Linked DNA regions of Homo sapiens: region 1 is linked to region 2. Evidence: fine-mapped expression QTL. Tissue or cell type: whole blood. Region 2 holds a variant in brackets; the other region holds the start of a gene. All regions are shown on one strand. Distances are between the middles of the regions.

Region 1 (2,684 bases), 26 kb before region 2:
TATGATGTTTTCCTGGGCTGTGGACTGAGTGACGTTCCATACATTATTATCCTCACCACCACCTTTTAAAGGTCATATAAGTTAGTTCTCATAACTTTGTGACGTCGACATTATCTCCCCATTTTACAAATGAGAAAACTGAGGTTCAGAGATCAGTGACTAAAATTCGAACATGTGTTCTTTCCACTCCACCATGAAAGAATGAACCCAGAGACCCTCCGTGGGCTGAGCGCATCATCCAGCTGGCACTGAACTCAGATTTCTACCCCACAGTAAAGACCCTGGTCTCTGCAATGAGTTGAGCCCAGGTCCCTTTCCCTGGCTAGGTTTTGGCTGCCCCTCTTCATCAGCTGAGCCGCAGAGAAGACTCCGTGTCAAATTTCCTTCCAAGGCAGACTCCACCAAGCACTAGCTATGTATCATTCGAAAAGTTACTTTGACTTTCTGTGCCTCAGTTTTCTCTTCTGTAAATTAAGGATCCAGCTTCTCAGGACTGTTTGTGAAGAGTAGATTAGTATTTGCAGAATGCCTAGAATAGTGTTACAGTCGCTAGATTAAACTTTTTTTTTTTTTTTAAATACCATGTGGGGAGCAGTGTTCCTGGGCTCTGGGCTCAGCCTGAAACCTAGCAGAATAGGCATTTTATGTCCCTATTGACAGGGGTTCTGCCAGGCCGCCGTAGAGCCCATGGATTTGAGTTACCGGCTCTATTTTAGAAGGGGGTGAAGAGGTAGGGAAGGGCTGGGGAGCTTTCTGGGATAGGGAGACTGCCCATTGAAATCTGGGTGTCTGGGACACTGGAGGAAGAATAAGAAAGAAGCCCTGGGAGGTGACGATTTTGGTATCATGGTGGTCTTCAGAGGTAGGGACAGAGTGCTGGGGTGAGAGTCGCTGAAGAAAGGTGTCTGAAAGGTTAAGGGACTGAGGTTGTGGGAAGCTGGGGTTCCTGAGAGGCCTTGGGATTAGAGATGGGGGCTGGATCTGCTGGGTCCTAGACAGCGCGTCCAACGCTCCCCGCAGCGCGTTCCGGAGCCGGTCCTAGCGCCGCTCAACCAGTCCCCACTCCCTCCGGTGAAATTGCCAAATTAAAATGAATCATTTGGCCCATAATGGCCGAGGCGCTTATCGGGGGCGGGCGGACCCGCGGCAGTGCCTTATCTCTGCGGCGCACACGGCCCCGGCGCGCCTCGGCCCATGCTAACGAGGCCTGGAACGTGAGTGGGATTACAGCGCGTCGGTGGAGGGGCCGGGCGGGCGCGGGGCGGGCGGGGGAGCGGGGGCCGCGGGAGGGGCCGGGCCGCCGCCGCTCAGGACCGGGCCTCAAAATGGCCACACGCGTACCCCCGTAGCGGAAAAACGTGAGCATTCTGGCCTTTTTCTAGGGGAAAAGCAACCCGCGGCCTCCCACCGAATTCTTCATCAATTTCCTCCTCTTTTTCCCCACGTCCGCAAAAGAGGTCTTCGCTCCCTTTCCCTCGGTTCCTTTCGATGGCCGGGGGGGGCGGTGGGGGGGCATTTTCCACGGACGCCCCCGCCCCGGCTGCCGCCGCCCCTCCCGCCTCGGAGACTCTCTTCCTTCCTTCCCCCTTTTCCTTACGCAATATACAGAAATGCGCGAGGCTGTGGTTGGTTTTCATTTCTTCTTCGTGGTTGTGTGCATGCGGTGGGATTGTGAGAGTGCGTTCATGAGAACTGTGGGCGGCGTTGGCTGCTTCTAAGTGTGGTCTTCTTGGCGACAGGCTCTGTGTCCGAGTGTGGTGTGCCTGCGCGGTTGGGGTGTGTAGATGTGGACCCTTCGAGGCCCTTCTGCGTTTTCTTCGTTGCGTACGATTGTGCTCCGTTGGTGTTCTCAGCAGGGATCTGATTCTGTGTGTGGGGGTGTGTGGCCCCTGCGACTGTGTTTGGGTGGTGTCGTCGTTATGTCGGGCGTGTGTGATCCCGACTGTGCTGGATTGTGTGTCCGTGAGCCGCTGCGTTTGACTGATTTCGTTGTGTCCTGTTGGGCAGTGTGCGGGGCTGACCAAGTCGGCTTCTGGGGCAGTGCTAGGTGGTGTTTGTTTGCTGCCCTTCTGTGGGGCTGGACCCTGTGTGGTCCTGTCCGCACTGAGTTGTATGCCTGTGTGCCTGTGTCCTTTAGAGGTGCGTTTGCAAATCGCTGGGGGCGGGAGTGGGGGGAGGGCGAGCGAGAGATCGAGGCGCTGGTGGGGGCGGCGGCATGGGGGCGGGGAGCGGGATTTCACATTTTATTCCAAATTATGATGTATTCGGGAGCCAGTTGTTGGCTTGGGTGGGCGGACAGCGCCCGGTCGGCGGCTGCTCTGCCCGGAGGCCCGCCTGTGCCTAGGTGTTTGAGGGGTTCGTTGGTGAGTGGGAGGCTCCTCCAGGCTTGAAGCTGAGCAGCGCTCGCCGAGGCCGGCGCCTTCGAGCCGGTAGCTGCGGGCTTCGGTTCCCGCTGCACTCCGGCTTCATCCATTTCTGGTCAGTTTCGTGGGTGCGGCCGCCGGGCTCCAAGGGAGAGGCCCCGAAAGGACAATGGGCACATTCACCAGGCCTCGAGCCTCGGGTGGGGACATTCGGGATCACCTCCTGGGAAGATTTTCCCGCCCCCTCTTCGGGTGAGCGACGTTGCCGCTTGGGTCTGATACCCGTCGCATCCGAGACCGAGGCCGAATCCGGGCTCTGGG
Region 2 (2,684 bases):
CTTTTCATTTAATCCATGAGTAAGGAGGCACACATATAATTACATCATAAAAATTTAAAATATCTTGACAATTGTATTTCAATGCCTTTGATTTTCATTATTCTATGTATTTTATTTTATGTGTTTAAGGCATTAATTTTTAAGGGGATCATAGACTCCACCACACTGCCCCAGAGGTCCATGGTACACAAGGCCAAAGCCTCTGCACAGAGTGTCCTCGCTGACCCTCCAGCCCAGAGCTTGCATCTTTCCCGGCTCCATCTCTAGTCGGAAAGGGTTTGCATCATGCACTGGCATCCTGATTTTGCAGGAAAGTTGCAGGAGAGGTAGGCACCTGCTTGTGTGATTGAAGGGGGCTTCAATGCTCCAATGTAGCCCCTTGGCATGTCACTTTTAAAATCAATATGTGTTGAGCACATCACACATGCCAGGTCCTGTTCTTTTTTTTTTTTTTTTTTTTTTTTTTGAGACTGAGTCTCGCTCTGTCACCCAGGCTGGAGTGCAGTGGCGCGATCTCGGCTCACTGCAAGCCCCGCCTCCCGGGTTCACACCATTCTGCTGCCTCAGCCTCCCGAGTAGCTGGGACTACAGGCGCCCGCCACCACGCCTGGCTAATTTTTTGTATTCCCAGGTCCTGTTCTTAAAGCAATGACCAGAATAGAGCAATGAAAAAGAAACATTTTCTTTGGTGAAGTTTATATTCTTAGTGGAGAGACAGATGATAAATAAGAAAAATAAGTTAAATAATTAGTGGATTGGATGGGGATAAATGCCAAAGAGAAGAATGAAGCTGGGAAAGGGAATAGTGAGTGTGTGTGTGTGTGTGTGTGTGTGTGTGTGTGTGTGTGTGTGTTTTAGGGGGTTTTCAATGAAGGGAGGGCCTTTTTTGGAAGTAAGCAAGAGGGTCTCGCAGAATAGGGGTCACCGGAGTCAAGACCTGAAGGAGATGAGGCAATAAGCCATGCAGATATTTGGGGAAAGAGTGTAATGGAGGGGAACAGCTAGTGCAAGGGCCCTGAGGCTGCAGTGTGCCTGGCATGGACTGGTTCAGGGCAGCAAGGAAGCAGGAATGGCTGGAATGAGGAGGAGAGGAGTGAGAGATGGGTTGGAGAGGTACCACATGGAGCCTCTAGTCCACATAGGGACTTTGGCTTTTACTTTGGGTGGGATGCAATAACATTGGAGGATTTGTTTTATTATTCTTTTATTTATATTTATTTATTTATTTTTGAGACAGGGTCCCTCTCTGTTGCTCAGGTTGGAGTGCACTGGTGTAATTATAGCTCACTGCAGCCTTGATCTCCCAGGCTCAGGCAATCCTCCTACCTCAGCCCACTGAGTAGCTGGAACCACAGGCAGGCGCCACCATGCCTTTGGTTTTTAGTAGAGATGAGGTCTCACTATGTTGCCCAGGCTGGTCTCGAACTCCAGAGCTCAAGCAGTCCTCCAGCCTCGGCCTCTCAGAGTGCTGGGATTATAGGTGTGAGCCACTGCGCCTGGCCCCATCAGAGGATATTGAATAGGCAAGGGACTAAATTTTCGAAAGAATCTCTCTGGCTGTCATGGTGAGAGCAGACAGAATGGAGCATAGCAAAATTGGGGAGATCAGT[T/C]AGGACACTATTGTGATAAGGCTAATGAGCGATAAGGGGCTTGGATGTTGCAGCAATGGAGGTGGTAATAAGTATTATTATAGAAGTCTAGATATATTTAGAAAGAGCCAAGAGGATCTACTGATGGATCCAGTGTGGAAAGCGTCAGAGGGGAACGTCAAAATCAACTATGAGATCCTTCCTCTGAATCGCTGGAGGGCCAGAACACCGCATACTAAGCAGGAAGGCTGTGGGAGGAGCTGGTTTTCAGTGGGGTGAGCTCAGGAGCTCAGTTCAGGACATCTTACGTTTGAGACCCTGTCAGTGGAGTGGTCTGGGTTGGAAATGTAACTTTGGGAGAGATCTGCATTTGGATGGTGTATAATGCAGACAGGGCTGGGTCATAGTGCTCAGTGAGCACTATGCCAAGTGCTTTCTAGCACCTTCTCACCTCACTCCCCCAACAAACCCAAGAGGAGGGTGCTATTATCACCCCCATTATTTAGATGGATAAACTAAAACCCAAGGGGGCAAGGGACTCACTAAAGTCACACCACGAGGAAAAAGCAGAACCGGATCCCAACTTATATGTGTCCCATTTCAAAACTCAAGCTCTGTAACCCATATATACTATTGTAATTTCTTCTTTTTTATTTTATTTTTATTGATACATAATATTTGTACATATTTATGGGGTACATGTGATTTTTGTTACATGCATAGGATGTATAATGACCAAGGCAGGGTATTTAGGACATCCATCACCTCGAGTATTTGTCATTTCTTTGTGTTGGGAGCATTTCAAATCCTCTTTTCTAGCTATTTTTTTTTTTTTGAATCAGAGTTTGGCTCTTGTTGCCCAGGCTGGGGTGCAACGGCACGATCTTGGCTCACTGCAACCTCCACCCCCCAGATTCAAGTGATTCTCCTCCTCAGCCTCCCAAGTTGCTGGGATTACAGGTGCCCACCACCACGTTCAGCTAATTTTTGTATTTTTAGTAGAGATGGAGTTTCACCATGTTGGCCAGGTTGGTCTCGAACTCCTGACCTCAGGTGATCCACCAGCCCCGGCCTCCCAAGGATGGTGTCAATTTT

What was found. PIP is the estimated chance that this variant, and not a neighbour inherited with it, causes the effect.
Region 1: TAL1 starts here. The variant in region 2 is fine-mapped to the expression of TAL1 in whole blood (INTERVAL, PIP 0.98).

Annotation. Positions count from the first base shown.
Region 1 is chr1:47,230,841-47,233,524 of GRCh38, reverse strand. It overlaps TAL1 (TAL bHLH transcription factor 1, erythroid differentiation factor), which reads left to right and starts at 1,300. Exons shown (of 5, transcript NM_001290403.2): 1 at 1,300-1,358. RefSeq lists enhancers at 1,131-2,104, 2,105-2,684.
Region 2 is chr1:47,204,864-47,207,547 of GRCh38, reverse strand. No RefSeq gene overlaps it. Among named protein-coding and RNA genes, the nearest start is that of PDZK1IP1, 16 kb to the right of the region's middle. The variant T/C (reference allele first, on the strand shown) is at 1,611.